Regions from separate parts of the Homo sapiens genome. Here region 2 is linked to region 1. The links come from fine-mapping of genetic effects on gene expression. A gene starts in region 1. The other region holds a variant in brackets. All regions are shown on one strand. Distances are from middle to middle.

What was found. PIP is the estimated chance that this variant, and not a neighbour inherited with it, causes the effect.
Region 2: its variant is fine-mapped to the expression of M6PR in whole blood (INTERVAL, PIP above 0.99).

The regions. Positions count from the first base shown.
Region 1 is chr12:8,941,241-8,958,943 of GRCh38, forward strand. M6PR (mannose-6-phosphate receptor, cation dependent) reads right to left here and starts at 8,405. Exons shown (of 7, transcript NM_002355.4): 1 at 8,248-8,405; 2 at 4,989-5,165; 3 at 4,178-4,344; 4 at 2,561-2,670; 5 at 2,165-2,295; 6 at 1,176-1,302; 7 at 1-700. The coding sequence starts at 5,164. The coding sequence ends at 578. PHC1 (polyhomeotic homolog 1) reads left to right here. Exons shown (of 15, transcript NM_004426.3): 15 at 1-227. It also overlaps a transcript of KLRG1 not described here. RefSeq lists enhancers at 7,669-8,574, 8,575-9,479, 8,978-9,107, 14,589-15,788 and a silencer at 8,785-8,999.
Region 2 is chr12:8,979,008-8,989,685 of GRCh38, forward strand. It overlaps KLRG1 (killer cell lectin like receptor G1), which reads left to right and starts at 10,539. Exons shown (of 5, transcript NM_005810.4): 1 at 10,539-10,678. The coding sequence starts at 10,629. The variant A/G (reference allele first, on the strand shown) is at 3,485.

The sequences.
Region 1 (17,703 bases):
CAGAGGTGGGAGAAGCAAGTCTAGAACATCTCCAGGCTCAGACTAAACGAGAGTACTTGGACTGCAACCAAGTAATCACTGCAAAGTAGTTCCAAGCAGCAAGAAATACCAGATTCTCATGGAGGCTACTATAGGGTACAGAATAACAACATGAAAGCAATCAACCCTGTATAAATAATGTTTCTTGGCATTTTTTTTTTAATTAAAGAAATCCAGTGTCTCAAAAACTTGTGAAAATGTGTTTAAAAAACAAACGGCCAGTGAGCCTGCTACACCATTTTGCCCATATGCCTATTGTAACTTCTGATGTCAAGAGACAATGCAAAAGCCTCTGTTTTCACAGGCCCTATTATATTAACTCTGACTTACAACTGTACCTCTCTAGAGAAAAAACAGAAAATAAGGAACAAAGGGAAGGCAGTTTTACTAGTGAGAAGATGCAAATCAAAAGCAAACTGGAAAGCAAGAGCAATAGTAAGGGTGAGATGAGGGACTGGAGTTGAGACTGCTTGAGAAATCTGGCTGTGTAGCTTTGGTTTGGGGGACTGAGGAAGAGGCTGGACATATAAAGTGCAATCTACATTGGTAATAAATGGTCATCCCTTTCTTCTGACTCCTCCCCCAGCTGGTCATCCCCCACACCACGATATGCTGCAGGCACATTTCGAGGTTTAGAACGGCAGACAAAGTCACAGCCATCCTGTAGGGGGAAAAAAAAGAAGGAAATAATTCGCAGCATCTAACTTTAGGATATGAGAAAGTGTACTTATGGTCTAGGAATGTGGCAAGAATTGGTTTTCTATAGGGATAATGAGAAAACCTAAAAGATCTGACAATCAGCCTAAATTCAATTTGGGGCAACAGGAGAAAAAGTTTCTTCTTATTAGGCCTCACCTTCTTCCCACCCAGGCCCTCTTAAAAGCTAAATCAGATTTAGAAGAGCCCATCTGGTCAACAGTGTTGCTCTTTCAGCAATGTCTTACCAAGGCCAGAAATGGATGCTGTGCCACTTACTACTCTGTACTAGGGCAACTGTCTTGTTTGCTGGGACTTTTGTGGTTTTAGCACTCAATGTCCTGTGTCCCAGGAACCCCCTCAGTGTGAACAAACGAGGATGGTTGGTCACCCAACCTTGTTTGCAGGCTACAAATTCAACCAGCTGCCCTGTTACTTACTGCTACCAGGTTGCCAAGATCCTGCCAGAAGGCTAAGTGGGGAAACTGCTCCATTCCTTTGGCTCCCACTACCAGTCGCTGGTATAGGAACCCCCCAACAACATAAACAGCAACCAGTGATGCAAACCTGTAGAGAGAGAAAGACATCTATACTTAAGAACTGGGAAATAGTAAAAACTCAGATAGGATAACCTCTGCATTTATTGTCAGCTGTTTCCTAAGATACATTCCCTGAAAAGGAAAAATGAGTAGTGATACTAAATGAAAAAGGGGGCTGGTAACTCTTAGAAAACCAGTTAGAGTGCTGTCAGTCCAAGAGAAGCAAAGGCCCAGACAAAATGTGACAGCGTGTGATTCTATGGCCAAGAATAATCACCATTAAGTATATGATTCCATTTCTCTAGAAGTTCTCATAATCTAATGAAATAATATAAAAATTGCCTAGTCCTGCAGTAGGGGAAAAAAGCACCTCCAAATGCAAATCTATACCGGCAACTAAACATTAAATCTCATTTTTCAAAAACTTGCAGTCAGAATTTTTTTTTTTTTTTTTTTTAGACGGAGTTTTGCCCTTGTTGCCCAGGCTGGAGTGCAGTGGTGCGACCTCAGCTCACTGCAACCTCCACCTCCCAGGTTCAAGTGATTCTACTGCCTCAGCCTCCCAAGTAGCTGGGATTACAGGCATGTGCCACTGTGCTGGCTAATTTTGTATTTTTAGTAGAGACGGAGTTTCATCATGTTGGTCAGGTTGGTCTCAAACTCCTGACCTTAGGTGATCCATCTGCCTTGGCTTCCCAAAGTGCTGGGATTACAGGCGTGAGCCCTGTGTCCTGGCAGAATTATTTTATAGCCAGAGGATTTAAAAAGTTATCCCCATCAATTACAGCATAATGTACACATACAATTTGTGCTTATGTACCACCATATAGTTACTGACCTTAAAAACAAAAGGAAGGAAGGTCTGTTCTGATAAAGGAAGGCATACTCACGTGACAAGTAAGATGGAACCCACACTGAGGTGGGAGATCTCTGGTGAACAGGCCAGGCTGCTATCCATCTCAAAGAGGTAGAAACAATCTTGGACTTTGCCACGCTCCTCAGACACAGGGTTAAAATTGTCCTGATGATGAGATGGCATAACACATTCAGGTGGTTAAGTGTTTTGACTCCTGTCCAACAAAATAAAAAACCCAAAAAACATCTGCTCCTTCCTGGTTCAGCAGCCTATTTTCCATGGAAGATGCGTGTCTGACACAGAGAGAAACTGAGCTCCTAGTTTTCTAATGTCCATCCCAACGTATCGTGTCCCCTCTGGATATTCTCCCCAACCTCAGGTCAGTCCTTTCAGTCTCCTCCCTCGGCTTATACAACACAGGGTGCCTCACCGCTAGGGTGTGTCGATTGCAGGAGATCATCACCACTGCACGACGCTGCTCCTTGCCACAGTGGTTGTCATATTCATCACCCCCTTTATAGATCAGCATGATCCAATTACCTGAGGAGGGACAAGGAAAATGGAGCTATGGGGTGGGGGAAAAGCAGAGGCAGATCTGGGTGGTATGGCAGAGTGGAATTGCGTAATTCATTGCAATTGGTTATAACTAAACAACCCTCATCAGTACGAACTTGGTATACCAGAAATGCCAAGCTAAACTTGTTTGCTTACAAAGACTTGTGTTCCCTTAAGACAAGAATCAGATATTCATTTAAGAATAATCTTAATTTTTAACATTAAAGGTAGGCAACTGACAATGCAAAACCAATTATGATCCATACCTTAACACTGATTCATTTTCTGAATACCTTCTAAAAGCAAAAAAAGAGGTTCCATACAATTGCTGAGCAGCAGGGGTAAGCCCATCTAAGATTTCAACTTAGCCCCAGATAAATTCAGAGTGGATATCTAAGATTGGAATGCATATCTCTTCTTTAGTATTTACTGTGTTCAGTTCTTTTGCAAAATATCATTTGATTCAGTAATTGTGAGGTGAATAAGGTAAAGATTCTGCTCCTAGTTTTGCATATGAGAAAACAAGGTCAAAAGGTGATACGACTTTCCAGTCACAGGATTAGGAAACAGGAGGAGAACCTGGTCACATGATCCCCAGCCCCAAACCCTTTTGTTACTTTTTTATTGTATTATTTACCAGGAGTAAATAGCTACCTTGTATAACTTATTTATCTGTATGGGAGGGAATTGGACCATAGGTGCTTACATGGTCCTCTCCAGCAATATGACTTTTAAGAAATATCACCACCATAGCACAAAAATCAGTGGGTAAAGTTTTGCAGACTGAGTAGTTTGCAAAAAAAAGTTTGAGCTCTTAAAATTTAACTGGTAAACTTTGATTAATTTGATGAAAAGTGGTGGTGGTGGTTGGTATTTGTAAGTCTAGTGTGAAACTCATTAAAAGTATTTGGGTGAATAAAAGGACTCTAGGCTACAGAATTCTGGCTAGAGTTGGCTGGGCGCGGTGGTTCATGCCTGTAATCCCAGCACCTTGGGAGGCCAAGGTGGGCAGATCACGAGGTCAAAGATCAAGACCATCATGGCCAACATTGTGAAACCCTGTCTCTGCTAAAAATACAAAAATTAGCTGGGCATGATGGCACACACCTGTAGTCCCAGCTACTCAGGAGGCTGAGGCTGGAGAATCGCTTGAACCCAAGAGGCTGAGGTTGCAGTGAGCCGAGATTGTGCCACTGCACTCCAGGCTGGGTGACAGAGAGAGACTCCGTCTCAAAACAAAACAAAACAATTCTGGCTAGAGTCTTCATTTTGCATAAGTTTTTCACTGATTTTAATGCACAACTGTCCTGAGCTGTGGCTTACAGAGGAGCTGTGGAATTAGGCATCCTGTGGTATATTACAGTCTCAGGTGTGCCGAACCACACGTATGATATGCTGAAGACACTAGAAACGGCCAAGACATACAGGATTGTCAGAGGGATTGACTTGGGATCAGTTAGTCAATCGATGGTAGGAAGGGGAGTTTTCTTACTTCCGTTGAAGATGTGAGTCTCGTTGAGTCTCCCTACCACTGTCTCCTTCCCATTACTTTTGTTGATTTGCACCAGGCCTGCCCCAGAAGTGTGGTTGCCAGCTTCCCGGCACACCCTGAAGATGTAGATGTATGTGTCTGAACCCTGGCCCACAGTGCTCTCAAAGCTGTAAAGAGAAGTGGGAAGAAAGAAGAGGAGAGTTACTAGCTATCAGCCTCAGGAATAACAGCATCCCTTTCCTTAATTAAAACAAAACAAACAACATGCTCGATTTATTTATTTGAGGTCATGGCTGAGTGAATATTTGTTTAATTTTAAGATATTCATAACCTTGACAGACCATCCTTATTGCTGATGATGAATTATTAAAACACACTTGAGCTATCTTGATAGCTCAATATTCTAGTTATTTTTAGAATGCCTGTTAGTAACCATGTTCCAATGAATAAGGGCCCATGTTCATCGGATAGTCTCGTTTCTTAGGGACCAACTTCAGATTTATATATCTGAAGGTTCCTGACACTTATAATGACATGTGTCGGCCTAAATATGTTTATCTGATATTTCTAAAGTCCTATTATATGTAGGTGTCAAATAATCCTTAAATTTCTACAAGCTGGTCTCTTGGATCCAGTCTTGGAAATAGCTACACTTCTGTGAAAGATGAGAAAACTGCACACAGCAACTAAAAACTGGGCTGAGAATTTGCTCTATGTCATAAAAGAGAGCACATTATGAAATAAAATCAGTAAGAAGAAAAGACTTTAACATAAATATTTTCTCAAGCTCTTTAAGGTTCTTCTCATTTACCTTTTATTAAACAGTGGTTTCAGCCTCTTCACTAGAGCCAACTCTTTCTCTGACTCTTTACCCTTTTCTCCTACCAAGTCGCAAGTTTTTTCTTCTGTCTGCCAGGATTCTCTCACTGCCACAGCCAGGAGTAGTAGTAGCAGTCCAGTCCTCCAGCAGCTGTAGAAAGGGAACATCCTTTGGGAGAGAGTGTGTGTTGGGGAGGGCAGGTAGGATCAGGAGAGAGAGGAAAGAGATAAAGCGTATGAATGTGTAATAAATCGATGGTATTTTAATTATCCAGAAAGTACAAGATTCTCTGGCATATGCAACACATAGTACATTTTAATATCTCTGTAACAAGAGCATCTGCAGCAGAAAATTCATTTATATGTAACTTGTAGTCTAATGTATAGGTGAGTCTTTCAGAACAAACTACAAAGTTGGGAAGAGGGAAATGAAAGAACTTAAAAAAGAATGATGACAGCTTGGGTGGAGCCATCCTTGCCTCTTTACTGTTTGATGGCTTGATGTAGTCTTCTGAAACCTCTTTGGCCTCTACAGGTCACAAATCTCAAGGGTTTCTAGACTTCCCATAAGTACAGTTGTCTTTTACACTACAAATCAATGACAACAAATTGGGGATCACCAAGCCACTTTACAATTGAGTAAATTCAATGCACCTGCTGCTTGTACTGCTCTAGGAATGAAAACACACAGACAGCTCTCTTTCCCAAACTTACTAGACTGGTGCAAAGGTCATTGTGGTTTTGGCAAAAAAACCCCACCAAAACCTAACATTTTCTTTTCTCTTATCCATCTTCATACCCAGGACAGACTGACTTACCCTTGCAAAACACTTTACTCTGGTATCTGTTAATGATCCCTCAGGCCATTGCTACTTGTTTATTCCAAGAGTATCACGGACAATTTCCTGATTTAACTCTTCTAAACTTTTCTCACTTACAAAAAACGCTGCAAGTCTGGACTTTGGTTTGAATATTCTTTAAAGTTCTCTAGTTCTTTTTCATGCGGGTCCACTTACTCCACCTCATTTTTAAAATATAAAACTTGAAACAGGCAGAATTTTCATGGGTACTAATGAGTTTGAAGATGGGAAAATGGAAGCTCCAACCTTGGCCGTGAATGCACTTTCCCCATTCCCCTAAACAACCTAACATCTGACCTTCCACTTCCCACACCCCACTAAAGCAAAAAATCCCGGGAAATTGTCTACCTGACTTCCTGTACCCCAAACATCAATTCTCTACTGTAATATTATGGTAGTTTCCATAGAATAATCATAGCTAACCAAGAGGTCCAAGGCCCTCATAACACATTTAATGCACTGAAACCACACAACAGCAGGAAACAACAGACTACTGCCTTGGGCCAGGTGCTGTTCAAAGCACTTAACATATATTAATTAACTAATTAATCCTCACAACCTTATGAGTAAATACAATTATTGTTGCTATTTTACCAGTAAGAAAACTGAGACACAGCTAGTGGAGTGAGCCAGAGAGTCTAGCTCCAGAGCTCATGGTCTGTGTTGAACAACTACATGTATATTTCCACTATGTGCATAACAATTTTTTGGAGATGAGAGTAGACAGCCAAAACTGTGGGTTTTTTTTTTTTTCTACTAAGAAGTGAAGGGGAAGTGATTCCTCACACAGTTGACTGAATAGGAGGTGAAATAAAGAACTCAGACCTCCAACTCCCACCTTCCCTAAGTTAACCCACTGCTCAACACACAACTTGACCAGCTGACTCACTAAAAAGAAATAGGAGACTCCTTCTTCTAGACTGACTTAGCCTGCCATTTTCCTTTCCAGTCTCTCAGGACCTAATTAAAAACTGACAGTTGATTTCTTTTCCTAAATTAGAACAAGGAATCTCACAAAATTAGGAAGGGATGAAAGGTTAAACACCTCAGCCATTAGCTGAGTTGAACTATCTTTCATTTGCTTATTATTCAAAAAGTTAGGATAATAAATTTATACTGTATTCTTCTTTCCTGCTTAAGGCTTGTCTTTAAATTTAAGCTGCTTCTCTTTAATTCAGTGGCATATGCGCTAAATGTTTTCCCTAGATTATGTTCATTCATCTTCACAACCCAGAAAATAGGTATAATTTTTCATACTTCACAGATGAGAAAACTGATGCTTTACAGAATTACTTGTTAAATTACTTGCTGTACATTACACAGATATTAAATGTGTGTGAAGTTACTGGGGCAATTTAGACGATTCGTGGCATAAAGATAACTGCTGGAAAACTTATAAACATAGGGGTGCAACAATCAGGAAGAGAATGAAATGGAAGGGCCCAGTAGCCCCCTTTTAATATGCTACAATTAGATTCTCAAGGTACAAGAGTTTGTCTATATACTTTGGAAATAAGGAGCAGGATTTTATGATCTTGAAAAATCTTTCAGTTTTCTTATTCTCTAACGACAGATCTATTTTATTTGGCAATGCTAAAAATTATCCTTTATTAGGGTGGCCAATGACTAAGCCAGCAACTGGGAAGCAGCTTACACCACTGGGCCTCTGTAGCACTCACTTCCCCATCTGTTAAGACAGCCATGGCCATTTACCAGTGGAATTTCTACTGTCTTCCCGCTGGCTCCTTTCTGATGTAGCAGTCCTTATCCCTTTTTCTCCAGCAGCCTACATGTTTAGAAAAGCAGCCTCAATTGGCTAAAAGGCCTAATGCTGAAAGAACTCAAGAGAGAAGGAGCCTCAGACAAGTAGCGGCTATGTCCCAAGAGCGGAAGCTCCCCACAACGAGGAACACAAGATAATCCGTCCATCAGCCATTCTTATCCACACCACAGTCGCATCCCCCTCAAAGCTCTCCCAGGGTGCCAGAAATTCTCGCTCTGTCTAGTGTCCCGACTTTCCAAGCGCTTGTAGCCATACCCTCTCCAAATGATGCCACTTGACCTCCCACCGTGATGCAGGCCAAAATTCCTCCTACAAATAAATCCACCAACACCTCCAACGGACTCCATACTTGGGGTATTTTCCTTTCCCTGCTTTCTAAATATCGTAAATCCCCTCTCTGGTCTTGGAAGTCCTTTCTCCCTCACACCTTTCGGAACTCCGTGACTCTCCGCTCTCATGCCTCCGCCTCCATTCTACCCTTAGGGCTCCTCAGCCAGATCTTTGGCTAGAACCATGGTCAAGGGAGAATGCGATTCCGGCTCCTGTCACAGACGCTTAAGTGTGAGCGCAACCCAGCCCGCCTCCTCCTCCACGCCCCTCACACTCACGTGTCGTGGGAAACTGGAGTAGCCAAAGCTCAGAATCCCCAGTGAATACCCTTCTGGGGATGGGAGACGGGGCCAGCTAGGGGCCGGCCGCAGACCCCGGTCCCAGAGCTAGTTTCAGAGGCCAGCGTTCCCCCTAGCGCCTCGCTGTGCCCCACTCTGGGAACCGGAAACAGGAAGCGCCAAGAGGCCGCTGGGCAACCGCTCCTCCCACCAGACCCCGCGGCATGTGACCATAGAACCATTTCGCCCCTTTCCCCTTCCCGGGCTCCCTGATAATCTTAAACTCTGATTGGCCAGTATTCTGGGACTTTAGCTCCGCCCTCGTTCCATCAGCTCCAATCACTATCGAGGTTGTCGTTTCGCCTTTTCTGGTTGCCTTTCTTTCAATGGGGTCCCAGAGTCCCGCTTCCAGGGCCTCTCGGCTCGCGCACCCCGGTCACGCGGGGTCACGCGCCTGACCGCTCCCGGGTAGGGTTCGAGTGAAGAGGGTGAGAGGGGCAGGTGGCGGAAGCGGAAGTTACGCAGGCAGCTCGCCCTCGGGCTCCGCGGGAGTTGTAGTTCTCACGCTAGGTCTCCTCCGGGCGCTTCCCTAGCCCGTTCGCCGCCTGAGAGGGACGCTGTTCCGCCGCGTGGAAGCTTCGAGTCTCGACTCCACTGTTGACCCCTAGACGAGAGTAGTGCAGCGACGGGGCCGTGATGTGCGTCCTGGCTTTCTTAACGACACCTCTCCTCTGTATTTCCTTTTTCCAGTTGAGTACCTTGGGGTGAATTATTATTGTTACTGTTATCTCTGTCGTTCCTTACTGCTTCGTGGTATTTTGCTTGATAAGCATGCTCTGCAACCACCTCTGTTCGCCAGAGGTTACTTCTGCAAAGTAGGAAGAAACGAGCAATACGATGGTAATCTTTGCGCCTTTGCTAAGATCTTTTGTAGGTTCCTTATGTCTTACTAGCCACTTGTTGAAGTCCTGCTCATTCTTAAACTCTGTTCAGATGTTATTTTTCCTGTAACTTCGTGCATTCACTCTCTTCAGAATTAACAATTTCTTCCTGTGGACCCTCGCTTGTGGCTTGTACCTGGCTTTAGCATGTTTTCATTCCGCTTCCACTCTTACGTTGCTTCTATGTGTGCCTCTCTGGCTCTATGCAGGTGCCTGGATTTTTGATTCTTACCCCTCTCATTAGAACTACTACAGTGTTTTGAGTCTAATAATAATAAAAGCTAACGGATGCATATCTCGGTGGTGCCCGGCACTTTTGTAAGTGCTTTAAACGATAGTTAATTCACTTGGTCTTCACACCAACCTTATGAGGAAGTATCTTATCCCAAGTTTACAGATGAGTAAATTAAAGCAGATAGAAGCTAAGTAACACCGTGGGTCCCAAGCTATTAAGTTATGGAGCCAGTATTTAAATAGTCTCCATAATCCATGCTCTCAAGCACTACGCTTTACCGACTGTATGCCATTCTGCATTTCTTTGTTTATTAGTAATACATTCAGTTCAGGCTAGGTAGTAATCATATCTGGGTTGGATGTTGCCCCAATAAAAAAAAAAATTAAATTTTTTTCTTCCTGAAAATGAAAGTAATTTGTGATCAGATAACACAGAAAACAACAAAACAAAAATCATACATAAACTCACCAGGAGGGTGTGTATTTCCTTCATGAATATATGTTGTTTCCTTTTTTCAAAAATGTATCAGTCCCACACTGTGGCTCATGCCCGTAATCCCAGCACTTTGGGATTCCGGGGCAGAAGGATCACTTGAGGTCAGGAATTCAAGACTAGCCTGGGCAACATAGTGAGACCCCTTCTTTCAAAAAAAAAAATCAGCTGGGCTTGGTGGTGCACACCTGTAGTCCCAGCTGCTTGGGAGCCTGAGGCTGGAAGATTGCTTGAGCCTGGGAGTTGGAGGCTGCAGTGAGCTATGGTCTTGCCACTACCCTCCAGCCTTGGTGATAGAGTGAGAACCTATCTCAAAAAGATATGTATGTATCAAATATTTTTCCATATCCTTGACTTTACAAATAAACTTTTTAATAGCATAATATTTAGTTCTATGCATTGCTACTTAACCAATGACATTAATGTTGAGCATTTAAGTTATTTCTACTGACTTATTTTTTATCAAGTAACTCAACACAGCTTTACTGAGCAATTACTATGTGCCAAAACCACAGAATATATAATATAGATCTTGGGGATACAGCAGAGAAAAAAGACAAAAATCCCTGTTACAATCCGTTCTAGAATTGATGTTCCTTTGTTGGTTAATTCAAGTTTTGATTTCAGAAATCTTACCTCTTGGTGACTGCCTAGAGTGGCATTGGGCTGGAGGGGAGGAACTGTTCATGTTGGAAATGGGGAATGGGCCAAAAATGCAATTGAGTAGGTTGATTAACTTGTCTGCTGTCAGAGTGGAAGCAGGGGTAGTTTCCCTTTCCGACCAGAGGCAAACAACCTGGGTCACTTCCTTGCTTCTCAGACCTCAGTGCCCTTTCTGGGTGCTTTCTGTGTTAGAATTCTCACCTCTGAGAACTGAGCTCAAGGTTCTTGCTGGGGCAAAAATTGAAATGAGCAGAATTTTTTTTTGTTTGTTTGTTTGCATTTCTGGCCTGCCTCCTTTCTTAGCCTCATTATTAACAAGCACACTCCCCACAATAAACCTACACCCACACTGCCTTCTCTCACACAAGGTAAATTGTTCACCTTGTTTAGAAAGCAGTTCTAGGATTGTTGGTCTGAAATCAAATGGGAAGGATGCCTCCTGTTCTGTATAATCATAAGAGAGGAAGGTAATTAACAGTCCTAGAACCTCAGCTTCCCAAGTAGCTGGGACCACAGGCGCAAGCCACCATGCCCAGCTAATCTTTGTATTTTTTGTAGAGACAGGGTCTCACATTTTTGCCCAGGCTTGTCTTGAACTCCTAAACTCAAATAATCTGCCTGCCTCAGCCTCCCAAAATGCTGGGATTACAGGTGTGAGCCACTGAGCCCGGCTCAGATGCTTTTCAAAATGATCATGTTTTCCATATTTCAAGGACTAAATATAGTTTTTGGTAACTTTCAATTTTAATATATTTATCATTTATAGAGAAGATGCAAGGATAATACAAAGAACTCTGGTACACATTTTACCTAAATTCATCTTTTTCCCCTCCATATACATTAGTTTATTTTGAACAGGTTGAGAGTAAACTTCCATTACCATTAAATATATCAGTGTGTATTTCCTAGAAACAAGGACATCCTCTCATCAAAATCAGGAACTACAGTATTAATACAATATTACCAAATCCATAGTCTGTATTCAAAATTTTATCACGTTTCAATAGATGCTATGTATAGTTACTTCCGATTTCCCAACAATCACAGGAGCCAAGCCAGAGTCACACATTGTAATTAGTTGTCATTGATCTTACTTGACTTTGAAATTTTGATAGGTACTGGCCACTTGTTTTGTAGAATGTCTTTCATTTTGGTTTTGTTTGATATATCTGATGTAGGATTTTTCTCGGTCACTTTGCCAACCAGGGACCCGTCCATAGCTAGTGACACCCCCCCCCCGCAAAACCCCCAGGCCTCACTTGACCTGCTGCCTGTGTTATAGTTTGTATCTGCATTCGGTGGTTCCTGAACTCTTGTCCCACATCCAAGAAGAATGAGGATATGCTGACAATTTGAAGGATGAGAAGGATGGAGAAGAATTTTATTGAGCGATGGAACAGCTCTCAGCGGAGAGGGGATGTGGTAGGTGGAGGTGGTCCCCCACCCCTGCAGTCAGGTGGTTTCTCACCCAATGTGGCTAGGTCTGGGCATTTATGGATTCAGAATGGAAAGTGTGTGCTGATTGGTTTGTGAGTATGCAAAAACAGTTAAAGTGAAGACACCACTCAAAGGTGGGCACGACAGTGTAGAAAACCAATTAGGAAAGGGTAGGTGTATATAAAATGGGTGAAAGGTGGGGATCAATCAAAGAAAAATGTGCCAAATGGGAAGACAGGTTTTTAATCCGGTCCATGGATTTGACTTGTAGCTTGGCTTTCAGGCTTTAAACTGTCTTCAGCTTGGAGATGGGGTTTCACTGGGGATCTGCCTAGGCATTTGTCTGCCTCCTGCGGCTATCATTTCCTCATGATTATATTTAAGTTTGCATTTTTTTTGGATAGAAATGCAAGGGAAGTGATACGTTTTTATATCAATCAGGGTCCATTCAGAAACAGATATCATATTGGCGATTTTAACAGGAAAAATTTAAAGAATTATTTTCTAGTAAAAGATGATCAGTTACTAAAAGAGGACTCTATGATACAGAAGAAGCAGCTACGAAAAGGAGCTGTTACTTCTAGGGCTGAAGAAGAGTTAATAAAGGAGTTACTTAAGTTAAAGGAAATGCTCCCTTCCCCACCTGCAAGATTAGAGATTCAGATCTCTGAGGGGAGGGTGTGTTTCCTACCACAGGAACATGCAGTCCACCCACTGATGAGGCCGAGAAGTTGCGGGAGGGTGTGGGCCTCTGTTGAGCAGCCAGTGGGAGCCTTTTAGTGGTGCCTCCTTTATCCTTTTGACATGTCCATATGATTTTTTGAGGAATTCTTTACTTTCAGGCACATAAGATGTTCCGATTTTATCTTGTAGCATTCAGCATGAATGGACCTGGAGGACATCATGCTGAGTGAAATAAGACACACACAGAAAGAAAAATATGATATGATATCGGTTGTATGTGGAGTCTTGAAAAAAATCACCATAGAAACAGTGTAGGAAGATGGTTACCAGGGGCGGGGTAGGGGAAATGGGAAGATGTAGGTCAAAAGGTACGAAGTTGCGGTTAGATTCTAATGTTCTAGTGTGTAACATAAGGACTATAGTTAATATTGTATTGTATACTGGTACTTTGCCAGGAGAGTAGATTTTAGGTACTCTTACCACCAAAAAAAAAATAACTACATGAGATGATGAATATGTTAATTTGCTTGACTGAAGTAATCACTTCACTATGTATATGTGTATCAATCAAAATATCTTGTATGCCTCAAATGTATATTTTTAAAAAGTTTTGTGGTTCTCTTACCCTTATCCTAGAATCAGTCATTTCACCAAGGGGTCTTGGTTCTTTTAGTGGAAAATGGTATTGAAAAACCAAGATGTGATTACGAGTTGTGTTTGTTGCTACTTGTGTGTCACTGCTTCAGTGTCAGCAGACAGAGCTAGGAAATTGTTTATTTCCAAGAGTGAACCAAGTTCCCATTATATTCATTGTATGTATACATTTATTCACATATAAGAAAACACAGGAAGTGATTTTTTAACTGATAAGCCATACGATGTGTGAAGCAAGCCTACTAGTAAGAGTTCCATATTTGTTTAAAGTTCTGGTTTCTCTTGTTAAGGCAAAATATATAAGTCATGAAATGTACAACTCTTTTTTTTCTTTTTTTTTTGAGGCGGAGTCTCGATCTCTTGCCCAGGCTGGAGTGCAATGGTGCGATCTTGGCTCACTGCAACCTCTGCCTTCTGGGTTCAAGCTATTCTTCTGCCTCAGCCTCCCGAGTAGCTGGAACTACAGGCGCCTGCCATCATGTCTGGCTAATTTTTATATTTTTAGTAGAGATGGGGTTTCACCATGTTGGCCAGGCTGGTCTCGAACTCCTGACCTTGTGCCGCCCACCTCGGCCTCCCAAAGTGCTGGGATTACAGGCGTGAGCCACTGCACCTGGCCGAAATATACAACTCTTAAGGATACAATTCAATTTATTTTGACAAATGCATCATAACTGTTATCTGTAATCAAAAAATTTAGAAGATTTTCATCATCCAAGAAAATTTCCTCATGCTCCTATCCAGTCATCTTCTCCTAGTCCTAGAGGCAACTATTGCTCTGATTTTTTTTTTTTTTTTTTTTTTTTTTTTTTTTTTTTTGAGATAGAGTCTCTATCACTCAGGCTGGAGTGCGATGGTGCAAACATGGCTCACTGCAGCTTCGACCTCCCAGGCTCAAATGATCCTCCCAGCTAGCCTGTGGAGTAGGTGGGACCACAGGAGTGTGCTACCATGCTAGGATAATTTTTTTTTATTTTTTGTAGAGATGAGGTTTCCTTATTTTCCCCGAGCTGGTCTTGAATTCCTGGGTTTGAGTAATCTTTCCACCTCAGCCTCCCGAAGTGCTGAGATTACAGGCATGAGCCATCAAGCCTGGTCTTTTGAATTTTTCTTTTTTTTAAATTATAGATTAATTTTGCCTATTTTAGAACTTAGTATAAATGGACAGATACTGATAGTGGTGGGAAGCAGACAAATTCCTAGGTAGATACGGGCGGGTCCCTGGTGAAAACCAACCTTCGAGTCAAAGACCGCCGGAAGCCTGAAAACTCACCTGCCAGTTCTGGGTAGAATCTAAGACCCAAGTGAGAACTCCCGCAATGCCTTTTAGCCAATCAAATGGTGCTTTTTCCAGGCTGCCTATGGACCAATCAGCACACACTCCCCCATTCTGAGCCCATAAAAACTCCCGGACTCAGCTACACAGTGGGACTACCACCTTTGGGTCCCCTCTCTGCTGGGAGCTGTTCTGTTGCTGAATAAACGTCCTCTCTGCCTTGGTTACTCTGCAATTGTCAGTGTAACCTCATTCTTCTTGGACGCAGGACAAGAACTCGGGACCTGCCGAACAGCGGGTGCAAAAGAACAGCAGGTGAAAGGCTGTAGCCCTCCTGCCCTCTCCTGGCACCAGGCGGCCACCCCACGTTATGGGAAGTGGTGGTGGCGCCAGGCCAGCCCAGGAGCCGTGGGCTGGTGGGACTGAACAAGTTGGGACATGCCCCCGTTCGGCAAAGCTTGTGGACAGCAGGAATGAATGAACTGTAACACAAACGAGCTGAGACTCTTCGGGGTGCAGACCTCGGGATTCCCCAAGCCAGAGCTGTAACATGCTGTAACACCCCCCACCGCATTTTTTTTTCTTTTTCTTTTGAGACAGAGTCTCACTCTATCACCCAGACTGGAGTGCAGTGGTGTGATCTTGGCTCACTGCAACTTACTGCCTCCCAGGTTCAAGTGATTCTCCTGCCTCAGCCTCCTGAGTAACTGAGATTACAGGTGCCTGCCACGACTTCCGGCTAATTTGTTGTATTTTTAGTAGAGATGGGGTTTCGCCACGTTGGCCCGGCTGGTCTCGAACTCCTGACCTCACGTAATTCTCCCACCTCAGGCTCCCAAAGTGTGGGGATTACCGGCATGAGCCACTGCACCTGACCTTTGAAGTTCCGCAGTTGCTGGTGTCTTTTGAGTTTTTTGGACGCCACTGCGTTCCCTTCGTTCATATGCCAGTGCCCAAGGCAGAAGCTGCTTGCAGTATACCTGATCCAGCCACAGCTTCACATGAAGCTGGTGCCTGGAGGTGATGCCCTGCTGTAGCAGCTAGCATACCTGGCTTGCCCTTGGTGGGTGTGAGATCTGGGCCAGTACCGCTAGCCAAGAGCCAAGCACAGCCTGCCAAGCCCAGTGGGTGGAGCCAGCCCAGTGGTCACGAGTGAATCTTGATCTTGAGCAGGGCCCCCCCGGCCGTGGAGGTCTCTGGCTGTGGAACACCACCAAAAAATCCTGTGTCAATAGCATGTTCCTTTTGCATTTGTTTGATTTCTTTCACTGTAATATCTGTGAACTTGTATGTATCAGTAGTAGGTTTTGTTTTGTGTTTTGGTGGGGTAGTATTACATTTTATGAATACAGTAGCCCTCCCTTCTCCTCAGGGGACATGTTCCAAGGCCCCTGCTGTAGACAGCATCTAACCCAGTTGCCTTCAATGAGAATATGTTTCTGTTCATATCTTCCACCCACAAATTTAATGCCTTTTCTGTCTTAACGAAGCACTTACCGTGGCCCATGGCAGTAACTTCTGCAGTTTGAGTTGCAACAGCAAAACTAGCACACATTCTTTTCCCTTCTTCACAATTTAACAGATAGAGGATTTATTCTTACCATAGATGTTAGCAACCTCGGAATACTTGTTTTGTTTTTTGTTTGTTTGTTTGTTTTGTTTTGTTTTTTTGTTTTTTGTTTTTTTTTAGTAAGTCAAGAACCTTCACCTTTTTATTTAAAGGAAGCACTTTACACTTCTCTTTGGCATGTCTGCATAGCCAGCATTACTACTCTTGCGCTTTGTGGCCATTATTAAGTAAAATAAGAGTTACTTGCACTGCAGTACTGTGGCAGTCAATCTGATAACTGAGAGGGACACTAACGGGCAGGGAGTGTCCCCAGCGTGTTTCCACTGGATGAAGGGGTGATTTATGTCCCAGGTGGGATGGAGCAGGACAGTGCAAGATTTTATCACAGTACTCAGAACAGCATGCAATGTAAAACTTATGAGTAGTTTATTTCTGGAATTTTTCATCTGATATTTTCAGACCTCGGTTGACTACTGGTAACTGAAATTGTAGAAAGCACACCTGCAGATAAGGGTGGGGAACTATCGTATTTCTCATCTTATTCATTCCCTTTTGATGGGCGTTTGGGTTCTATCTGTATTTTCTTCTAAGAAGCCTTATAGTTTTATGTTTATGTCTGTAATTTATTTTTAAATTTTTTTAGAGACAGGCTCTTGCTATAGTACCCAGGCTGGTCTCAAACTCCTGGCCTCAAGCTCTTCTCCCAACATGGCCTCCCAAAGTGTTGGGATTACAAGCATGAACCAGTGTGCCCGGTCTGTGATCTATTTTGAGTTAATTTTTGTGTATAGTTGAGGTAGCACTGAGGTTCCTTTTTTTCCCCATATGGATATATAATGACTTCCTATAACATTGTTTGACTATTTTTCCTCTCTTAATTGCGTCAGAGCTTTGTTGAGAATCAGTTGATTGTATAAATGTAGTTCTGTTTCTGGACTTAATTCTGTTTAGTTGATATCTTTATTATTAAGCTAATAACACACTCCTGATTCTTCTAGTTTTATATTAAGTCTTGAAGAAAGGTATTATAAGTCTTTCTTCTCTTTTCAAGATTGTTTTGGCTATTCTAGGTCCTTTGCATTTCCATATACACTTTAAAAGCAACCTGTCAATTTCTGTTAAAAAATCCTGCTGGGGCAAGGCATAGTGGCTCACGTGTGTAATCTCAGCACTTTGGGAGGCTGAGATGGGAGGATCACTTGGGCTCAGGATTTCAAACCAGCTTGGGCAACATGGTGAGACTCTGTCTCTACAAAAAAACCTAAGAATTAGCTGAGCGTGGTGGCTTGTGCCTATGGTCCCAGCTACTTGGGAGGCTAAAGTGGGAGGATCGCTTGAGCCCAGGAGGTCAAGGCTTCAGAGAGCCGTGGTTGCACCACTGCACTCCAGCCTGGACAACAGAGTGATACCCTGTATCAAAAAAAAAAAAAAATCCTGCTGGGGTTACAATTGGGGTTGATATGAATCTGTAGATAAATTTGGGGAAAATTGACATCTTAATGTT
Region 2 (10,678 bases), 34 kb after region 1:
CCTGGCCTGTCTTTTTTTTTTTTTTTTAGACATATCTTGCTCTGTCACCCAGACTGGAGTGCAATGGTGCAATGTCAGCTCACTGCAGCCTGTGCCTCCTGGATTCAAGCAATTCTCCTGCCTCAGCCTCCTGAGTAGCTGGGATTACAGATGCCCATCACCATGCCTGGTTAATTTTCTTTGTATTTTTAGTAGAGACAGTGTTTCACCATGTTGGCCAGGCTGGCCTTGAACTCCTGACCTCAGGTGATCCATCTGCCTCAGTCTCCCAAAATGCTGGGATTACAGGTGTGAGACACTGCACCTGGCCTGTCCTTCATTTTTAAAAGATAATTTTTCCAAGTATAGTATTCTTGGTTTAGCTGTTTTCTCTTTCAGTGCTTTGAATATATCATCCCATCCTCCTGGCATATAAGGTTTCTGCTGAGAAATCTACTGATAGTCTTATATGTGATGAGTCATTTTTATTGTGCTACTTTAAAAATTCTCTTTGTCTTACCTTTAACAATTTAATTATAATGTGTCTAGGTGTAGACTTCTTTATGTTTAACCTACTTGGAATCTTTTAGGATTCCTGAATCTGGATGTCTATGTTCTTCCCTCAATTTGGATAGTTTTCAATTATTACTTTGTTACATATGTTTTCTGCTTCTTTCTCTATTCTCCTTGTGGGACTTCTATAATGTGTATATTGGCTTGCACATTCATGTCTCCCAAATCCTGGAGGTTTTCTTTTTCATTCTTTTTTTTTCTCCTCTGACTGGATAATTTCAAATAACCTGTGTTTGAGGTTGCTGAATCTTTCTTCTTTTGATCAAGTCTGCTGTTGAAGCTCTGTATTGTATTTTTTATTTTACTCATGTATTCTTCAGCTCTATAATTTCTGCTTTTTTTGTTTTTGTTTTTTGTTTGAGTTGGAGTTTTGCTCTGTTGCCCAGGCTGGAGTGCAGTAGTGCGATCATGGCTCACTGCAACCTCTGCCTCCCAGGTTTAAGTGATTGTCCTGCCTCAGCCTCCCAAGTGGCTGGGATTACAGGGGCCTGCCACCATGCCTGGCTAATTTTTGTATTTTTAGTAGAGACAGGGTTTCACCATGTTAGCCAGGCTGGTCTCAAATTCCTTACCTCAGGTGATCTGCCCACCTCAGCCTCTCAAAGTGCTGGGATTACTGGGATTACTGGGATTACAGGTGTGAGTCACCATGCCTGGCCCTGTTTTTTTTGTTTTTTTGTTTTTTAATGATTTCTATCTCTCTGTTGAACTTCTAGTTTTGTTAATATATTGTTTCTGATATCACTGAGTTGTCAATCTATGTTATCTTTAGCTTACTGAGCCTCTTTAAAACACTTTAACTTTGAATTCTTTGTCGGGCAATTCATAGATCTCCATTTCTTTGGGTTTGGTTACTGGAAATCTATTGCGTTTTTTGGTGATGTCATATTTTCTTAATTTTTTATGTTCCTTATAGGCTTGCAGTGGTGTCAATGCGTTTGAAACAGCAGTCACCTCTTACTGCCTGCAAGGGTAGTGGCTGGGTGAGGTGCATGGTGCACTGGGTCAGCATGGGACTGGAGACTTGTGGGGCACATATGGGCACTAGTTCTAAAGGGTGTGTCATGGCATTGGGTCTGATAGGTGAGTGCACACATGCAATGCTGGGCTTGGGGTAAATAAGCAGCATTCATCCTGGTTCCAGAGGGTGTGGCTGAGGCTCTAGCTTTGGAGGGGGTGCAGCAGTGTGAGTTCTGGGCAGCTCCATCGGCTGGTGTCAGCATTCTTGAAGACTGTGGGGGTCCTTGGCAGTTAAGGCTGTGGGTATTTGTGGCAGTGGGGATGGCTGCTAGAGTCCTGAGTGGCACAGGTTGCATGGGTTTTCCTGCTCTCCTTTTCACCTTGTGAGGAAGTCACAGCTGATGGTATTCCTCTTGTCTTTGAGCTTTGCCAGCCTGGGGAATGGGGTTACACAGGTAAAATGCTTTCTACACTTTTCTGCATGACCATCCTCAGTTTTTCTGTTTCACTGAGTTGCAGCAGCTTTTTAATTGCACTCCAGAACTCTCCCAGAGCTATTTTCATCTGTGGATAATTGCTAAATTGTTGTTTTTGTGGATATATAAGGACTGGTACATCCTAGTCTGCTCTCTTGCTGTGTTAGTCCTCTTGCTCAATCTTATTAGAAGTTTATCAGTCTTAATCTTGTCAAAGAACCAAATTTTGGCTTTGTTAATTTTTCTAGTCTTTGTTTCATGATTTTATTAATTTTCCATTTTAAAATTCTGTCTTTTCTTCTACTTACATTGGTTTTAATTTACTCTTCTTTTTTTAACCCTCATAAATTATAAACTTGGATTATTTATTAATTTTTTTCTTTTCCATTCATTTAAAACTACAGTATTTGCTGTAAGACTGTTTTAGCTGTGTTCTATATATTTTTGTATTCTATTTTCATAATCATTTAATTTAAAATATTTTAACGTTTAAAATTATTTTTTTCTTTTACCCATGGGTTATTCTTCAAAGTGGGTATTTTAATTTCCGAATATTTAGGAATTATGTCGATTTTTTCTTGTTATTGATTTCACTGTGGTTATAAAATATATCTGTAAGATTTTAATATTTTGTAATGTATTATATTATGGCTGAGTATGTAATATATCTTTGCGAACATTTTATTTACACCTAAAAACGTGTATTCTTTAATTGGTGAATGTCATTTTGTTGGGTTAATTTAATTTGGTCAAGGTGGTTGATGGTGGTGTTGAGGTTTTTTATATTATTACTGAATTTTGTTTAATAGTTTTATCAGTTACTGAGAAAAGGTTTTTAAAATATCCAACTATGATTATTGATGTTTATTTTTCTTTAACTCAGCTTTTGCTTCTGTTCATATGTTTTGAAGCTCAAAATTAGGTGCATACTTATTTATAGTTGTTATATATGCTTGATGCAATCAGTAACTCATGTAATTATGAAATGTACCTCTTTATACTCACCTATTTTTGTCTTATATTAGTATGACCACTTGTGGAAGGCTGAATAATGTCTCTCCCCACCTCAAATATGTTAACACCCTAATCCCTTCAGCCTATAATTATGTTACCTTATATGACAGATACTTTGTAGATAGGATTAAGCTAATAATCTTGAGATGGAGAGATCATGCTGGTTTGTTCACGTGGGTTCAAGGTAATTATGAGAGTCCTTATAAGAGGGAAGCAGTAGAGTCAAAGTCAGAAAACAGAGTTGTAACAATAAAAGCAGAGGTTGGAATTATATACTTCAAAGGTGGCAGAAGAATCCACAAGCCAAGAAATTTGAAATTTGGCAAAACTGATTTCCTTCTGGAGGCTTTAGAGGAGAACATTTCCTTGACTTTCCCAGAAGGAAATCAGTTCTGCCAAAACCTTGATTTTGGACTTCTGACCTACAAAACTTTAAGAAAATAAATATATGTTATGTTAAGTCACTAAGTTTGTGTTAGGTT[A/G]TGTGTTACAGCAGTGATAAGAAACTAACACACCACTCCAGGTGCTTACTGTAATGTGTATATTGGTTTGCACATTGTATATATTTGTATACCTTTCTTTTAATCTGTCATTATATTTAAAGTGCATATCTTACAGCCAGAACAGACAATATCTTTTTTTTTTTTTTTTTTGAGATGGAGTTTCATTCTTGTTGTCCAGGCTGGAGTGCAATGGTGCGATCTTGGCTCACTGCAACCTCCACCTTTTGGGTTCAAGCAATTCTCCTGCCTCAGCCTCCCAAACAGCTGGGATTACAGGCACCTGCCACCACGCCTGGCTATTTTTTGTATTTTTAGTAGAGATAGCGTTTCACCATGTTGGCCAGGCTGGCCTTGAACTCATGACCTCAGGTGATTTGCCCGCCTCAGCCTCCCAAAGTTCTGGGATTACAGGTGTGAGCCACCATGCCTAGCCAGAACAGACAATATCTTTTTGGTTCTTGCTTTTTCTTCTAGTCTTACAATTTGTGCCATTTATTTGGTGCAGCAGTCCATTTATGATGAATTCAATTATTGATAAGACTGGCTTTATCATTTTGCTGTTTTTTAAAATGATTTGCCTTATCTGTTTTACTTTCTGTTTTTTTTAAAGAAATTAAGATGGGAAAAGAAAATAAATATAATTCTTTATATGTACTTATATATTTACCATTTCTGTTGCTCTTCAATGTTTTCTGTATATCTATGTTTTTATCTAGTGATACTTATTTTCTAAGAACTTCTTTTAGCATTTCTTGTAGTGCTGGACTGCTCATGACAAATTTGCTATTTTCTCTGCTCTGAAAATATTTTTACTTCCTCTTCATTTCTATTGGATACTTTTTCTGGATATAGAATTCTGTATTGGCAGTCTTACCATTTTACCTTTTTTTTTTTTTTTTTTTTTTGAGACAGAGTTTCGCTCTTGTTGCCCAGGCTGGAGTGTAATGGTGCAATCTCAGCTCACTGCAACCTCGGCCTCCTGGGTTCAAGCGATTCTCCTGCTTCAGCCTCCAGAGTACCTGAGATTACAGGCGCCTGCCACCACACCTAGCTAATTTTTGTATTTTTAGTAGAGACGGGGTTTCACCATGTTGGCCAGGCTGGTCTCGAACTGGTGAGCTCAGGTGATCCATGTGCCTTGGTCTCCTAAAGTGGTGGGATTACAGCCGTGAACCGCCGTGCCTGGCCCATTTTACCATTTTAAAGATGACATCTCATTGCTTTTCTCCTTTTTTGTTTCTGTTGAGAATTTAGCTATCATTCATGTGTTGTTTCCCATTATTAATGTGTTATTTATTTTCCTCTGGCTGTTTTCAGTATTTTCTTTTTATCTTTGGTTTTTATTAGTTTTAGATTATGTTCTTAGGAGTGATTTTCCTTCTGTTTATCTTGATGCGGATTCAGTGAGTTTCTTATACCTGTAGGTTGTATCCCAAATTTGGGGAATATTTGATCATTACTTTTTCAAATTCCTTTCCGATTTCATTATATGTCCCCTTTATTTTGGGGGACTACAGTTTCACTTTTGTTATACTATTTGGCATTGTTCATAGGTCACTGAGGTTCTGTTCATTTTTTTCTCCCATTTTTTCCCTCTATTCTTCATATTGGATTATTTTTAGCAATCTGTCTTCATGTTTACTGACCTTTTTATCTGCCCTCTTCTATTTGCTATTAATCTCATTCAGCTATTATTATTATTATTATTGAGATGGAGTCTCGCTCTGTCACCTAGGCTGGAGTGCCGTAGTGCAATCTCAGTTCACTGCAACCTCTGCCTCCTGGGTTCAAGTGATTCTCCTGCCTCAGCCTCCTGAGCAGCTGGGACTATAGGCATGTGCCGCCAGGCCAGGCTAATGTTTTATATTTTTAGTAGAGACAGGGTTTCACCATGTTGGCCAGGCTAATATTTTATGTTTTTAGTAGAGACAGGGTTTCACCATGTTGGCCAGGCTGGTCTTGAACTCCTGACCTCAAATTATCCACCTGCCCCCGCCTCCCAAAATGCTGGATTACAGCTGTGAGCCACCGTGCCTGGCCCTCATTCAGTTATTTTTAAAAATTATGAATGCTGTTCTGTTCTGGAATAGTCACTTGATTCTTTTTGGTAGTTTCTACTTCTCTGAGATTCTTCAAATTTTTATTCATTATGACTATATTTTCTTCTAAGTCTTTGAACGTATTTATGCAGATATTAAAGTCCTTGTTTGCTAGTTCCAGCATCTATGTTACATAAGTTTCTTTTCTACTTACTGACTTTTCTTTGATCCATGGCCCATATATTCTTATTTCTTTGGATTCTAATAATATTTTATTGTATGCTAGATATTAAATGTGATGCATTATGGCTAATCTGTGTTATGTATCCTCTTTTTTGAAGAAAAGTTTTATTGGGGAATAATTTCAGATTTACAGAAATGTTTTTAAGATAGCACAGAACATTTCTTTATACCTTTCACCCCATTTCCCCTAATGTTAGCATCTTAAAAAATCATGGCACATTTCTCAAATGTAAGAAATGAATATTGCTACATTGTTTGAATTTTACCAGTTTTCCACTAATGCTCTTTTTGCTGTTCCAAGATCCAATCCAGGATACCACATTACATCTAGTTGTTATATTTATTGTTTTCCTCTGGTCTATGACAGTTTCTCAGTGTTTTTTTTTTTTCGTGAACTTGATATATTTTAAGAGTATTGGTCAGATATTTAGTAGAGTACCACTCAATTTAGAATTATCTGATTTTTTTTTTGCATGTTTACATTGGATGTGTAGGGGAAAACTTTCTTCAGCTGTGTTTTTCTTCTGCTTTCACACCAGCACTACCACAATTATCAACACAGAAGAAGACTTGTGTGACCAAATGTGGTAGGGGTGTTCCCCACATACCAATTAGCAGACACCAACTGGGTATCCTCTAATTCAATTCCGACATTATCTACCTGGAGATAGTGTTAGATCTTACATTTCAGGGATTCAATATGCAAGATCACCCCCTACACCCACAGACACCAGTCACAAGTCTGGGCCTCTGGAACATCTGACCAATAAGCTTCAAGTTGGGATTTCCACAACTTCCCCTTTGAGTTCAGTTAATTTGCTGGAGCAGCTCACAGAACTCAGGGAAACCCTTATGTTTATCAGTTTATTATAAAGTATATTACAAAAGATACAGATGAAGAGAACTGTAGGGCAGGGTATGGGGAAAGGGGTGTGGAGCTTCCATGCCCTCTCTGGGAAGGCTGCTCTCCAGGAATCTCCACAGGTTCAGTCATCTGGAAGCATTCTGACACAGTTCTCTTGGGTTTTTATGGAAGCTTCAGGACATCAGCATTCTTGCTGCTGACCCCCTCCCCTTGTCACCCCAGTAAAGGGCAGGACCCTCTCTGGGGAAGGTTTTAAGACCCACAATCAGAAAGGCAGGGGAAAATTAGAGTCCTGCCTTGAGGCAGATGAAAGGAGGGCAGAAGAAGGCCAGAGGCCTTCCCCTTGGGGCCTGACACACTCAACATTATAAGAAAGGACTGTAACAGGGACCATAGGAGTTAGGAGCCAGAAACTGTGGATGAAAACCAATATATACATATGTATAATACCACCCTGGGGTTATGGATTTTGGGGAACAAACCTTACTGGTTAGGTGCTTTTATCATTGCATCATATTAGGGGGTACATGATATCAACAAGACTCATCACTGGTGGTTCACGCAGTGAACCCTGTTCATGTGGTTGAGGTGGTATTTGCCAAGATTCTTTAATGAATAGTTACTATTTCCTTTTATCCATAGTGTACTCTTTGGAAGTGAGTCTCTTATCCCTGACTACCCTCAAAGGGAGGAGAGTTAAATTCCACATCCTGAATGGGGAGTATCTACATATATTATTTGGTATTTTCTGTAAGCAAGATTTGTCACTTCTCACCTATTTATTTATTTAAATCAGTATGGATTTATATAGTTTTTCCCCTTGTGTTATAATTCAACACTGTCATTTATTTTGTTGTTCATATTGTTCCATTGGGAGCTTTTCCAGGTTGGTTTCTGTGTCCTGATATGCTCCCATCTTTTTTTTTTTAACTTGCTTATTTTTTAACATTAAAAGACTGGAAGATCCTCCAAGCTTATTTTGTACTTTCCCTGTCCTGGCCCTAGAATTAGCCATTTCTTCAAAGAGCCCCTGATTCCTATGTTGCCTTCTGATGTGGTTTGGATCTGCATCCCCACCCAAATCTGACGTTGAATTGTAATCTCCAGTGTTGGAGATGGGGCCTGGTGGGAGGTGATTGGATCACGCGGATGGTTTTTCATGAATGGTTTAGTACCATACCCCTAGAGCTGTTCTCCTGATAGAGTTCCTCACAAGACCTGGTTGTTTAAAAGTGTGTAACACCTCCCCGCGTCTCTCTTGCTCCTGCTCTGGCCATGTAAGACATTTCCCTTTGCCTTCCACCATGACTAAGTTTCCTGAGGCCTGCCCAGAAGCAGATGCCACTATGCTTCCTGTACATCTTGCAGAACTGTGAGCCAATTAAACCTCTTTTCTTTATCAATTATTTGGCCTCAGGTATTTCTTTATAGCAGTGCAAGAATGGACTAATACACCTTCCTTTTTTTAAAAAATGATCTTAATTATTTTAAAGCATACAATTCAGTAGTGTTAAGTATTATTATGGACTGAATGTTTGTCTCCCCCAGATTCACATATTGAAGCCCTAATCCTCAGTGTGACTGTATTTGGAGATGGAGTGTTTAAGGAAGTAATTAAGGTTAAATCAGGTTACAAGGGTGGGGCCCTGATCTGATAGGATTAATGTTCTTGTAAGAAGAGAGACCAGAGCCCTCTCTCTTTCTTCCCTTGTGCACACACTGAGGAAAAGCCACTTGAGGATATAGTGAGAAGTCTGCAACCCACAGGGGAAGCACTCTCCAAACACCAACTCTGCTGGCATCTTGATCTTAGACTTTCAGTCTGTGGAATGATGAAAATATAAATAAATTTCTGTTGTTTAAGTCACCTAGTCTATGGTATTTTGTTGTGATAGTCCAAGCAAGTGAATACAAGAATATTCACATTGTTGTGTACCGTATCTCCAGAACTTAATCACACTGCAAAACTGAAACCCTGTACCCATTAAGCAACTTCCTTTTCTTTTTCCCTCCAAACTTCTTTCAGTAACCATTCTTCTTTCTTTGTCTATGGGTTTGACTACTTTAGATTCCTCATATAAGTGGAATCACACAGTATTTGTCATTTTGTGATCAGTTCATTTCACTTAGTATAATGTTTTCAAGGTTCATCAGTGTTATAAAGTATGACAGGATTTCCTTTCTAAGACTAATATTCCATTGTATGTGTAGACCACATTTTGTTTGTTTTGCCTTCATATTAAGGGCGTGAAAATTTGTTCTCAGAGGCAGCTAAACTATTGATGACTCTTTTTGGCAATGTTAAGTTTTGCTCTGTTTTTGGTTGGTGCTACTAAGCAATGCATCACCTCTGTCCTTTCTGTTCAGCTCTTGGCCCTGCAGGAACTATCTCAGCTTGGACTTGCAGAGTTTTGTCCTATGTCTGCGCAGCCTAGAACTTGGCCACAGACATACAGTGAATTCCTACAGTCTTAAGGGTGCCTCTCTCTTGTGAATTATCCTGCCCTGCAAATTCCAGCCATTTAAGCAGCTCAAAACTCCAATATCTGCCTCCTCATTTTAGTAAGACTGCTGTTCTGTTTAGGATTCATTTTTGTGCTCTGTACTAGAAAGTGGTCCTAGATAGAAAGCTAGGGTGATCATTGCACTCACCTTTGTATTCTCTCAAGGATCACAATGCTGCCTGTGTGTTCCTGAAAATAGCTGCCTTGTGTGTCTTGCCATGTGTTGTATTTTGATTGGAGAGTAAGTCTAATGCCATTCTGTCATGGCTGGAAGCAGAAATATATTTGTTTTTATTAATATAAAACAAATTAATATAAAGCACTCCCTGTTTCTCTTCTTTTATCCTTATGCAGTCTATCTTGATGATCTTATCCACTCTTAAGAGTTTCAATACTCTTTCTGTTTCCTTACTTTAACTTTTGTTTTTTTTAGACGGAGTTTCACTCTTGTTGCCCAGGCTAGATAGAGTACAATGGTGCAGTCTCGGCTCGCTGCAACCTCCGCCTCCCGGTTTCAAGCCATTCTCCTGCCTCAGCCTCCTGAGCAGCTGAGATTACAGCCCCCACCACCACACCCAGCTAATTTTTTTGTATTTTTAGTAGAGACGGGGTTTCACCATGTTGGCCAGGCTGGTCTTGAATTCCTGACCTCAGGTGATCCACCCTCCTTGGCCTCCCAAAGTGCTGGGATTACAGGCGTGAGCCACCACACCTGGCCTACTCTAACTTTTTATTAACTTTTCACCTACTAAAAACAAATTACTAAGATGTTAGAATGTATTTGTTTACTTTGCTCTTCTTTTTAGTTATCTTTGCATGAAGTATAATAATAAAAAAAATAAGACAACAAAGAGAAAAAATATAATGGAATTTCTGATACTGTGAAGGGTAAAGACCATCACACAATTTGGACAAGGTTTTGGGGAAGATGTGGTCATGTCATATTCACAAAATATATCTGGGTAATAGTCTATTTCTCCCGTGATTCCAGGCATATGCACCCAACAGTCCATTTCGTTATTGCTTATCACTGCCCAAAAGTTCCAAGAAATGATGAAGTCAGTCTCATTTGGCATACATCTACTTTTTCAGAAGGAAACAAAGCAGAGAAAAAATTCCGAGAGAAATTCATAGCTAGTAACCACTCTCACTTTTATTTTAGTTTCCATAACTGAAATTGCTGGACTTGAGAGCAATTTTTCCTTGCTCAACAGAATTAGGTGAGATGGGGAATCAATTTAATATATATTTAGTGAGCATCTACAGTGTCATGGGGCAAAAAAATAGCAACTTACAATATTAATTTCTATAGGCAGCCCCCAAATTTGAATCATTTCCTGAAAAATTACTTCTGCTTTTGTGAAGTTTCCTGCTAGCAGTTTAGAGATTGGGCTGTTTCCTCACTGATACATATCCCTTCACACTTCTATAATTTAACTCTCTCAACTGCATGTGAAAGATCTTAGCTGAAGATGACTGACAGTGTTATTTATTCCATGTTAGAGTTGCCTACGGCAACCCA